Linked DNA regions of Homo sapiens: regions 1 and 3 are each reported to be linked to region 2. Evidence: microRNA targets listed by miRTarBase, many of them from high-throughput screens and not tested one by one. Region 2 holds a microRNA gene; each other region holds the end of a gene's coding sequence.
The links. The annotated mature microRNA hsa-miR-4751 reads AGAGGACCCGUAGCUGCUAGAAGG and lies in region 2 at 1,848-1,871, shown strand. An mRNA with a match to its seed (bases 2 to 7 or 8) in the 3' UTR can be bound and repressed. Matches are read on the target gene's strand: a 7mer-m8 pairs with bases 2 to 8, a 7mer-A1 pairs with bases 2 to 7 and ends in A, and an 8mer does both.

Region 1 (3,776 bases), not on the chromosome of region 2:
ACCTTGCCATCTAACTAGTCCTAGCAGCTTGGGTGGAATACCCAACTTCACTGGGCAAACTTCACTGGCCCTCACTTGATGAAACATGCATGGTGATGGCACCTGCCTCAGAGGAAAGGAGAGAATGCATATGGACGACTCAGCACAGTGCCGTATGTGGATTCAGGGCTCATTTAATTCAGGTATTATCATATGAACCATTCTCTTGCGGTCCGTGCTCTGGAGTTCAGCTGAGGCCTTCCTGTGCTTCAGCACCTGCTTCCTGAGTGGCAGAAAGGCTTGAGTCCTGAGCTTGTTAGCTGCAGAGCAGGGACACATCATAATCTGGAAGATGAAATCTGGGCTCTGGGCAAGGGCAGGAAGAAGCTTGAGAGGCCAGTTTGTGCAGCGCATCTGTGGGTCAGGGCTGTCACTGAGCGCAGGTGAAGAACACCCAGAGACAGATGATCAAGCTCCAAGTGTGGCCGCACCTCTGCTTATCCTGTCTTTCCTACAGGAGTTTCTGTATAAAACAGCGGGGGGACTCATCTACTGGATTGGCCTGACTAAAGCAGGGATGGAAGGGGACTGGTCCTGGGTGGATGACACGCCATTCAACAAGGTCCAAAGTGTGAGGTAAGCCCCTGGAGCCCTCCGTGCCAGCCTGACTTTCCCCGGCCATGGCCAGGGCATGAAGGGAGTGGGGGCGATGTTCCCCATGAGACAGGGTTTCTGATTCTTCCCTGTCTTAGAGTGACAGGAACATTGCAACCAAGATCGAGCACAACCCTGTCACCAACTGGCTGTGGACCTGAGCCCTCCACGCCCTCTGGGGTTTGGCAACAAGGCCTTCTACCTGGCCAGCTTCAGGGATCTTGTCATGAGTCTAGGTCTTCACAGTGTGGGTTTGTGTAGGGACTTGAAAGTGGTGGGTTGGTTTGGCCTGGACTTGGGGCATGTGAAAGCTTAGAGGTCGAAGTCTCACCAGTCCCCTTCCTCTGAGGCTTGGGTGCAGACATTTGCTATGCCATTCCCTAGGACAAAAGCTTGGGTTGAGTTAACTCATTTCTTCACTGGAAATAAGTTCTTTTTGATTTTCCACTTTGTAAATCCATCTTTTTCCCCGCTCTTGGTAGGTTCTGGATTCCAGGTGAGCCCAACAATGCTGGGAACAATGAACACTGTGGCAATATAAAGGCTCCCTCACTTCAGGCCTGGAATGATGCCCCATGTGACAAAACGTTTCTTTTCATTTGTAAGCGACCCTATGTCCCATCAGAACCGTGACAGGACAGGCTCCCAAGCTCACTCTTTGAGCTCCAACGCTTGTTAAACATGAGGAAATGCCTCTTTCTTCCCCAGACTCCAGGATGACTTTGCACGTTAATTTTTCTTGCTTCAAAATTGTCCCACAGTGGCATTCTGGAGTCCGTCTGTCTTGGCTGGAAATTCTCTGACGTCTTGGAGGCAGCTGGAATGGAAAGGAGAATTCAGGTTAAAGTGGGAGGGGTGGGTAGAGAGGATTTAGAAGTTCCAATTGCCCTGCTAAGGAGGATCAAGACCCGTAATCCGGCATAACACCCTGGGGTTTTCCACTCTTTCAGAGAAACCTCAGCTTCATCACATCAAAGTTACTCCAGAGCAACCAAGCAATTCTCCTGATATTGTCATCCAGGGCTTTTCTTGGCCAAACCCCCTAGAATTTCCATGTCTCTGCTTAGCTGTGCTGGCAGCTAGCAGCTGGCTGTGTTTGCAGTGCAAATAGCTCTGTTCTTGGAAATCCTGCTCATGGTATGTCCCCAGTGGTTTCTTCATCCACATCATCTAAAGCCTGAACCCGTTCTTCTCTGGTTCAAGTCAGTGGCTGACACGGACTTGTATCTCCTTCAGAGCTCGGCTGGCACCCAGCCTCCCTTCTCCTTCCACTCCCTTAGTACACTGGAGTGCCGAGCCCTGCCTTCCACCCAGCGTCCATCCAGCCCCTGTCCTCACCTCTCCGGCACCTCCTCCTCCTTCTGCATTTCCTATCTTCCTGTGTCTTGTGCATGGGAAGCAGCCTTCAGTGCCTTCATGAATTCACCTTCCAGCTTCCTCAGAATAAAATGCTGCCTGGGTCAAGGACTCACTCCAAGTGCACTTTTTCATTTCTGGTTGTCCAGGTGAATATGTGGGAAAGGCAGTCTCCTCTGGTGGACATGAAGTTCTAGGGTATCCTCAGGAAACATCTGGGGAGTCAAAAATAACAAGGACTGGGGAAGTTCCAGTCCTGGAAATGCCACAAAATGTGACCAGTACTTATCTCTAGTTTTTATTAAAGTAGAGCAAGGTCTCCAATGTCACGATCTTGGTGATCTTTCTTCTTGTTTACTGCACAATCTTCTAGTCTATAGCTCAATTCCCAAGAACAAGTCTCAGCAGGTTCCCCACTCTTCACAGAGACCCAGTTCCACAGGCATCAGTTCCAAATCCCAAGTCCAGTGGCTGAAGCTGGAATCCAGGCAGCAGCCACCACAGAGAGGAGAGGAGGGTGGAGTGAGCACAGGTCTTCATTAAGGTCCTCAGGAAAAGATGCTTCCTTAAATAACTGTAACCAGCAGTGTGTTGTTCTGGGTGCAAATGGGTCACAGCTGAGGGCACAGGCTTGTATTGTAAGACCTGAAATACCACGTGCTGCTGTGACATTTTATGCCTCACAGGGCCCCAAAGACCTAACCCTGAGTTCCCTGCCTCTCACCAGATATATCCTTGCCCTCGGTCCCCACCTGGCTAATTTCCTATCATCTGGACCAGCTGCATGCCACCCAGTTTTCTACTTAATGGGTTTCACTTCTCTGCCAGCCTGAGAAACTATTCAAACAAGCCAATCACATCCTCCTACAGGAATCCGGGGCATCTCATCCTTTTATTACTACAAGGCCTGCCTCCCACAGCCCTGGCTGGTTCACTCTGCTCCTGAGGGTGACCCCATGTGGCCCTGTGTGGCTTATGATATCTTTCCCCAGTAGACTGTATTTGTGACTAGTAAACTGCTGCCAGTCTCACCTGCACAGTGTCAAATGTCTTGTTTTGGCCATCTTGTCCTATTTAGAGCAGGGGATCCCTCCCTCACCAATGGAGGAAATGGGAGGTGACAAGAACAAGGCTGGTCGGGGATCTCTGGTTGGTTTTGGCAAAGAGATGAGCTGGGAAAATCAGACCATTTCTCTGGGAAAGAATTTGAACCAGGAAATAGCAAGAGGATGAGGCTGTTAACAAAAGGAAGTTGAGCTGGAAGGCACTGAGTTAAGAGAAAGGCTGGAGGGGCCGTCACGTGGCATTGGAAGAAACTAGCAATGAGCAGAAGCTATGAGGCAGGGGAAAGACATGAATACAGGCCTGGCATGGTGGCTCATGCCTATAATCCCAGCACTTTGGGAGGCTGAAGTGGGTGGGTCACCTGAGGTCAGGAGTTCGAGACAGCCTGGCCAACATGGTGAAACCCCATCTCTACTAAAAATACAAAAATTAGCCGGGCATGGTGGTGGGCACCTGTAATTCCAACTACTTGGGAGACTGAGGCAGGAGAATTGCTTGAATCTGGGAGGCAGAGGTTGCAGTGAGCTGAGATCCCACCACTGCACTCCAGCCTGGGCAACAGGGCAAGACTTTGTTTCAAAAAAAAAGAAGTGACTGCAGAGGATTATAGTTGGCAGAGAAAAGAGAACGGCTCAGAGGAGTCGCAATGGAGGTCCCGGAGGGCAGCCTGAAGGGCTCCGGCTGCTCCCGTTCCCAGGGCTGCCTCAGATCCTCCCAGCCCT
Region 2 (4,577 bases):
GATAAATTAAATGAGAGTGTATTGGAATAAGTCAAAAACACCTAGCAGCTGAGCTACAAAATGACAAAGGGGACCTAATATAGAATGGGTAGCCAGAAAACCTTCTCCAAGTAGGTAACATGTTGACTGAGGCATAAATGATGGGAAGGAAGCCAGGCATGATGGCCTGTAATCCCAGCACTTTGGGAGGCCAAGCGGGGAGAATTGCTTTAGTCCAGGAGTTCAGGACGTGGGCAACATAGCGAGACCTCATATCTATAGGAAAAAAAAAATTAGCCAGGCATGGTGGCTCACGCTTGTAGTCACAGCTACTTGGGAGGCTGAGGTGGGAGGATCGCTTGAGCCTGGGAGGTCTAGGCTGCAGTGAGCCAAGATGATGCCACTGCACTGCAGCCTGGGCAACAGAGTGAAACCCTATCCCTTAAAATAAAAAAAAAGTAGGGAAGGAATGAGGAAAACACCCAAGGGAAGAGCATTTTAGTTGGAGGGAACTGTATATGCAGAAGCCCTCAGGAGGCAGGAATCATTTCATTCATTACTGTATCCCAAATGCTTGGCACATAGTGGGTTTTCAATAATTAATGAGTAAAGATGAAACAAGGCATATGTGCGTGTGTATCTGTGTGTGTAATGTGATCTAGTTTGCCTTTTAAAAAGAGAGAATAGAGACACCACAGATACAGAGTACTCGGTAAAGGAGATGTTGGAATGGTTGAAGAAATGCTTGGTTGACTGTTGCTTGAGTCATTGGTTGGTTGGCTGGTTCTTTTTTTCTTTTTTAATTTTTTTTTTCTCCTGGACCCTCTTATGGGTTAAGACTGATTCTTTCATTGGCTAATTTGTTGGGTTTTGGTTAACTGGTTCATTGGTTGATTAATGGGTTGATTGGTTGGTTGACTGATTTATTTGGTTGGTTGACCGATTCCCTGATTGATTGGTCGACTAGTTCATTGGTTGGTTGGTTGGTTGGTTGGTTGACTGGGTGGTTAGATGGTTGATTGTTGGTTGGTTCGTTGACTGGTTTATTGGTTTCTTCACTGGTTTGTTGGTTTATTGACTGGTTTGATGATTCAGTGGTTAGTTGTTTTACTGAATGAATGGGACAGATGCACCTGAATGAGACGTGAGTCAGCACCCAACTACGCAGAAGACCAGCAACTCAGGGAATTTTGTGTCCCTCCCCACTTTAATCCCAGGTGATGGCTTCTCTGACTGGATGACTGAGCGAGTTGATTTCACAGCTCTCCTCCCTCTGGAGCCTCCCTTACCCCCCGGCACCCTCCCCCAACCTTCCCCAACCCCACCTGACCTGGAAGCTATGGCCTCCCTCCTCAAGAAGGAGCTGGAACAGATGGAAGACTTCTTCCTAGATGCCCCGCCCCTCCCACCACCCTCCCCGCCGCCACTACCACCACCACCACTACCACCAGCCCCCTCCCTCCCCCTGTCCCTCCCCTCCTTTGACCTCCCCCAGCCCCCTGTCTTGGATACTCTGGACTTGCTGGCCATCTACTGCCGCAACGAGGCCGGGCAGGAGGAAGTGGGGATGCCGCCTCTGCCCCCGCCACAGCAGCCCCCTCCTCCTTCTCCACCTCAACCTTCTCGCCTGGCCCCCTACCCACATCCTGCCACCACCCGAGGGGACCGCAAGCAAAAGAAGAGAGACCAGAACAAGTCGGCGGCTCTGAGGTACCGCCAGCGGAAGCGGGCAGAGGGTGAGGCCCTGGAGGGCGAGTGCCAGGGGCTGGAGGCACGGAATCGCGAGCTGAAGGAACGGGCAGAGTCCGTGGAGCGCGAGATCCAGTACGTCAAGGACCTGCTCATCGAGGTTTACAAGGCCCGGAGCCAGAGGACCCGTAGCTGCTAGAAGGGCAGGGGTGTGGCTTCTGGGGGCTGGTCTTCAGCTCTGGCGCCTTCATCCCCCTGCCTCTACCTTCATTCCAAACCCCTCTCGGCCGGGTGCAGTGGCTTATGCTTGTAATCCCAGCACTTTGGGAGGCCAAGGCAGGAGGATCGTTTGAGGCCAGGAGGTCAATACCAGCCTGGGCAACATAGTAAGACCCTGTCTCTATTAAAAAAAAAAAATCAACCCTTCTTCCCCACCAAACCACCCAACTCCTCTCTACTCTTATCCTTTTATCCTCTGTCTCTGCTTATCACCTCTCTTGCGTATTTCTGGATCTCCTTCCCTCCTTTCTCGTCCAAATCATGAAATGTTTGGCCTTAGTCAATGTCTATGCCCGTCACATAACAGCCGAGGCACCGAGGCCCACAGGGAAGCAGCTGGGAGCTTGGAAACCTGGTCTCTTGAATTTCAAACCTGGTTTCTTACAGGTGGTTGTCTGGGGTGGGTGGAGTGGCGACAGGATAGAGCTGAAGGACTATGCAAATGAGGAAGTAAGTCAGGGCGGGCTTTGAGAAGGGGACCCATATCCTACAGGCAAAAAGCAGGCTAGGTGACCTTGGGACACTACGCTAAGGGAGGGAGGCTAAAGGCGGCCAGGTTTGCAGTGCGGGAAGATGAGCAGGCCAGTGGGAGGAGGGGCAGGGCAGGGCTGTAGTTGGTGACTGGGTGTTCATTTTAGCTCTAAGAAAAAAAATCAGTGTTTCGTGAAGGTGTTGGAGAGGGGCTGTGTCTGGGTGAGGGATGGCGGGGTACTGATTTTTTTGGGAGGTTATGAGCAAAAATAAAACGAAACATTTCCTCTGGCTTGTGCATCTTGTCTTTGAGAGAAGCAGCTGGGGAGAGGCGGCCTTGTAATCTCAGCACTTTGAGAGGCTGAGGCGGGCAGATCACCTGAGGTCAGGAGTTCAGGACCAGCCTGACCAACAAGGTGAAACCCCATCTCTACTGAAAATACAAAATTAGCTGGGTGTGGTGGCGTGTGCCTGTAATCCCGGCAACTTGGGAGGCTGAGGCAGGAGACTCGCTTGAGCCAAGGAGACGGAGGTTGCAGTGAGCCAAGATTGTTCTATTGCACTCCAGTCTGGGAAACAAGATTGAAACGCTATCTCAAAAAAAAAAAAAAAAAAAAAGGGGGGGGGAGGTGGGGAGGGCCGGGCGTGGTGACTCACGCCTGTAATCCCAGCACTTTGGGAGGCTGAGGTGGGCAGATCACGAGGTCAGGAGATTGAGACCATCCTGGCTAACACGGTGAAACCCTGTCTTTACTAAAAATATGAAAAATTAGCCGGGTGTGGTGGCGGGCGCCTGTGGTCCCAGCTACTCGGGAGGCTGAGGCAGGAGAATCACTTCAACCTAGGAGGCAGAGCTTGCAGTGAGCCTAGATTGCGCCACTGCACTCCAGCCTGGGCGACAGAGCAATACTCCATCTCAAAAAAAAAAGAAAAAGACAGTAATAAAGATAACAGGGTGGGTGCAGTGGCTCACGCCTGCAATCCCAGCACTTTGGGAGGCTTTGCCAGGTGAATTGCTTGAGCCCAGAAGGTGGAAATCAGCCTGGATAACATAATGAGACCTCATCTCTACAAAAAATAATTTTTAAGAAAATGGCTGGGTGCTGTGGCTTACGCTTGTAATCCCAGCACTTTGGGAGGCCAAGGTGGGTGGATCACCTGAGGTCAGGAGTTCGAGACCAGCCTGACTAACATGGTGAAACCCTGTTTCTACTAAAAATACAAAATTAGCCAGGCATGGTGGTGGGCGCCTGTAATCCCAGCTACTTGGGAGGCTCAGGCAGGAGAATCCCCTAAACCTGGGAGGCGGAGGTTGCAGTGAGCTGAGATCGCACCATTGCATTCCAGCCTCAGCAACAAGAGTGGAACTCCATCTCAAAAAAAAAAAAAGAAAAAAAATTAGTGGGTGAGGTGGTGTGCACCTGTAGTCCTACATACTTGGGAGGCTGAGGCAGGAGGATCGCTTGAGGCCAGAAGTTGGGGACCAGCCTTGGCAACATAGCAAGATGCTGTCTCTACAAAAAAAAAATTAGGTGGGGCCGGGCGCCTTGGCTCAACGTCTGTAATCCCAGCACTTTGGGAGGCCGAGGCGGGCGAATCATTTGAGGTCAGGAGTTCAAGACCAGCCTGGCCAGCATGGTGAAACCTCATCTACTAAAAATACAAAAAAAATTAGCCAGGCATGGTGGCGCATGCCTGTAGTCCCAGCTACCTGGGAGGCTGAGGCAGGAGAATGGCTTGAACCCAGGAGGCAGAGGTTGCAGTGAGCTGAGATCACACCATTACACTCCAGCCTGGGCAACAGAGCAAGGCTCTGTCTCAAAAAAAAAAAAAAAAGAAAAGAAAAAGAAAAGAAAGAAAATTAGCTGGGCGTGGTGGCATGAACCTGTAGTCTGTAGTTCCAGGTACTCAGGAGGCTGAGGCGGGGGGATTGCTTGAACCCAAAGGTTGAGGCTGCAGTGAGCCATGTTTGTGCCATTGCACTCCAGCCTGGGTGACAAAGCAAGAACCTGTTAAAAAAAAAAAAAAAAAGACTGGGCACAGTGGCTCATGCCTGTAATCCCAGCACTTTGGGAGGCTGAGGTGGGTGGATCACGAGGTCAAGCAATGGAGACCATCCTGGCCAACATGGTGAAACCCCGTCTCTATGAAAAATACAA
Region 3 (3,776 bases), not on the chromosome of region 2:
ACACCTCCAACTTCATTAATAACCAACTTTTTTTTATTAGAGCAGATACAGTTGTGAAAACTGTACATTATACATTTTGGTTTCAAGAATTATAAATAAAGGAACTCACAGGTAGGGAGTTCTTTTTCACAGCAAGAAACTTTAAATAAACAAAGTCATGTTTTATTAAGTACATTGGCAGACTTCATGTGCTGTCCAAAATGTTGAGTACAGTATAACAACCCATTAGAAAGAGCCTTCATGTAAAATACAGCTGTGCACATTTTAGAAAAATACCAACAATTTGAGCTTTGTTTTAAAAAAGCTTATAAATCATACATATATTTATAAATGGGACCAACATGCTCACTTTATAAACATATCCTCTCGCTATCTGTTACCCATTATTTCCAAAGCATTACGCATTTTAAATGAACACTTAATAAGATTAAATATTTTATTATTATTTTTTTAAAAAACCAGCTTTCCCAGCGTAAGGAGCTATAGGGTTTGGGAGGGGCAGTGAGAGTACTGAGAGTGACGCAGGAACTTTAAACATTTGTTCTCAGGTAAAAACGGACTTCCTAAATTTAAAAGTCAAAGCAAAATGTAAAAAATGAATATACAAGTTGAAATTTTTCATTTGCTCTCTTTCTGCCTTCTTCTTTATTCCATATTGGTCACACCCAGGATTTTCAACATATTGTGCTTCTGTAAGAAACATCACTGGGTTACTACCCTGCAGGTGACAAAGCACTCAGTCCACATCTGTGCTAACCAGGGAATTGTGTGAACTGTCTCTTCTCCATTGAAAAGGTAGCTAATATGGTGTAAAAAAAAAAAAAAATCTGATTAAACCATGCAAATCATGAAAATATTTAGGAGTAGCTCCCCCTCTGCAATGTAATGTTTTATAAAGATTTAATAGATTAGATAGATATCTTTCTTCCCCTGATTTCTTTTTAAGTAATTACTTTTATAAAGACCATTTAGTTTCTATAAGTAAGCATGCTTCTGAATAACAAAGGGTAAATTATAAAACAGCAAAAATCCAGAAATGTCAGAATGACAAAAGACTGTAAAAGACACATATTTAAAATAAAAATGTCTAAGCCTTTAAAATGTGAAATGAAATTACAAAAGGACTTTGAAAAACAGGAAAGGCAGAAAACTGAGAGGCAGTGATTGAACAAGGCTTTATGTTCTACCTGAATGTATTCAACAGAAATTTAAGTTGGAAAAAGAAAACAAGAAAGAGCAGAGCAGTTTATTAATAGCATCTTGCTTAACTTTCATGGGAATTAACACAGCCACCGACAAGATTTTATTTGGTTGTAAAGTACGTCAGCAAAGAAACTGAATCCTTTAAACACTGATTACTGCAATCCATGCAACGTTTGGACTATATTTCTTAGAATTCTGTTGTGTTTCAGCTTTTAAAATTTAGCACTTCCTAAGTGCATAAATAATTCACCTCAGTAATGTTAAAAATATTTAGAATTAAATTAGTTCTTAGGAAGGCATAGTGTCTTCAAATTGCTAAATTTTAAAGATAAATAACCTTTTACAAGTATAGGAAGAATAAATGACATAAAAGATGGTATATTGCTATCAAAATAAGCACATTTTCACTAGCATTTTGTTGTTTCTTTTCCTTGAGATGCAACACGTGTGTTTCGTCCGGCCAGGACCGCAGGTGGTAGATGACTATACGTCAGATTTAAATAAACAGCAAAAATGAACAGAGTCGTGCACAAGCAAACGAAACGTTCTCTCCCAGAACATTCCAGGAGATGTTAAAGCAGCAGGTCATGGCATAAGACTGGTGAGTGATGCTGCTACCTATTTCTTCTAATGAGATAGGAGTGAATGTTGGAACCACGTCCACAGCAACACAATCCTCCGACCGCATTCCTCGGGCAGTCGTTTCCCCAGCTCCCTACTAAAAACGTCAGATGGTAAAATAGTAAGGCAGCTGTTGACTTCCATCAAAAAAAAAAAAAAAATGCAGCTCCATACATTTCCAGTTTAGTCACACTCTGCTAGGACAGATGGAGTAGCCAATGCCAAGAACTTCGCCGGATGGGGCTGCTTCAGCAGATTTTAAAAAAGAATTATTATTAAGTTTTGCTCTCCAACATGGCCGTGTGCTTCAGCTCCCAGAGGACCCCAAAGCCACAAAGCACTCCCAGGGGAACCGAACAGGTCCTCTGGCTGAATTTTCCAAGTTTCATCTCTCTCGCGATCCCATCCTAATTCCAAGCCTCCTTCCCTGTGTCTGAGTCTGCCTGGGGTGGGCCATTTAAAGGGCTGACGGCACCACTGCAGAGAACTGTGGGCTAACACACCACTAGTTGTCAGGACTTCACTGAAGGGTCAAAACAGTTATAGCAATTAAGTAACTATGTTGAATCACATTCAGGCATAGCCAAAATTAAAGTGAAGGACAATACGTCATTGTTAAAAAAAATAGCAAATTTGCATATGAGAAAAGAATGTTATTTACTATGATTTTAGATAGAAATTAAGGCGATTCTTACCTTTCCTAATTCCAATCAAGTTAGAAAGTGAACAAAAAGAATGGCCAACCCGATATTCAACAGCATGACAAGGACAATCATGATTGAATTAGGGCCCTGAAAATGAAAGAGAACAAAGTAACTATAACTTCTCCATGTTAATATCAAGATATTACCAAAGCCAATTACTGAAAAAATGAGAAAGTTAACATGATTGCAGTAAATAAGGCATAAAAGATGACAGCAGTTCGGAAAGGTGTAGACTAAAAACGGCAATGCTATGTTTAGATGGAGACATTTCAGAACCTTCACTTAAAAATGAATCCAGGCTTGAATTAGTTTAAAAACGTTTTAAACAACTGATCCACTTCATTCACCTCAAAACAATGGACAACAGCGTGTGCTGAGACACAGCTCACCCTAACAGGGCCTACGAACGGCTGGGAGTTAGACGTGCATTTGTTGTTAGAATGCAGTTCAGATGAGGAAGAGCTGCTTCCTCCACAGGGCAGTTAGAACACGAGAGCAAAATCTGTAGGACAAAGCCACCTCCAAGGAACAATTCAGGGAAAACTCAAAACGAGGTTCTCTACCTCTTGCTTTTTCCCTGGTCCTCTGTTTGGACACCACCCTTTCCGTTAAGTAAAAGCTGTAAGTGAGAAGTTGGATACTTTCAGAAGTTATCTTACAGGCCCAGCTTTTCAAATTTCTCTAATCACAACCACAACATTTCAGAAATGAAGTTATATTTTACAAACTATGGGATCCTATTTTGATAAATATCATTATAATAAATACCAGATAGTTGTCCAAGGGCCCCAAATTTTTACTTGTTTAAACAAACCAACCTCATATAACCCATCTTTTCAGATCTGCTCCATGAAGAAGCCACCTTTATTACAAAGACATGATTGTGGTATTTACTGTTAAAATAATGTCTAATTCTTATATAGCATTAAAAGTATTCTAAACTGGCTTTATGAGGTAGGTAGTTTTATTGTCCTCATTTTACAGAAGAGGAAACAGTGGTACTCCATTTGGATACTGGGTAAGACTACACTGAAACAATGTTACAGAGGCCTCAAAAGTATTGATGTTTTTTGGGTGTGGGGTAAGTGAATAATGGAGATTGGAGCTGTCATTGGTCAAACACTAATCAATTCGGGTCTAGGGTTTGGGTCACACATCATTGACTCAAGAAGGTCTCTTTCCCTGACTGAGCCCACATCTCCGTGGTAGAGGTCAGAGTGCCCTGCTCTTTCTCTATCACAAGGCGTT

Region 1: the mRNA of CD207 is a reported target of hsa-miR-4751. Seed matches in the 3' UTR shown: 7mer-A1 at 1,964-1,970.
Region 3: the mRNA of JPH1 is a reported target of hsa-miR-4751. Seed matches in the 3' UTR shown: 7mer-m8 at 2,142-2,148.

What each region holds. Positions count from the first base shown.
Region 1 is chr2:70,828,540-70,832,315 of GRCh38, reverse strand. CD207 (CD207 molecule) reads left to right here. Exons shown (of 6, transcript NM_015717.5): 5 at 497-615; 6 at 1,116-2,105. The coding sequence ends at 1,266. Among named protein-coding and RNA genes, the nearest start is that of CD207, 5.4 kb to the left of the region's middle. RefSeq lists an enhancer at 604-1,803.
Region 2 is chr19:49,931,226-49,935,802 of GRCh38, forward strand. It overlaps MIR4751 (microRNA 4751), which reads left to right and starts at 1,839; the gene lies at 1,839-1,912. ATF5 (activating transcription factor 5) reads left to right here. Exons shown (of 3, transcript NM_001193646.2): 3 at 1,197-2,710. The coding sequence ends at 1,867.
Region 3 is chr8:74,234,689-74,238,464 of GRCh38, forward strand. It overlaps JPH1 (junctophilin 1), which reads right to left. Exons shown (of 6, transcript NM_020647.4): 5 at 2,520-2,615; 6 at 12-2,347. The coding sequence ends at 2,535. Among named protein-coding and RNA genes, the nearest start is that of JPH1, 85 kb to the right of the region's middle.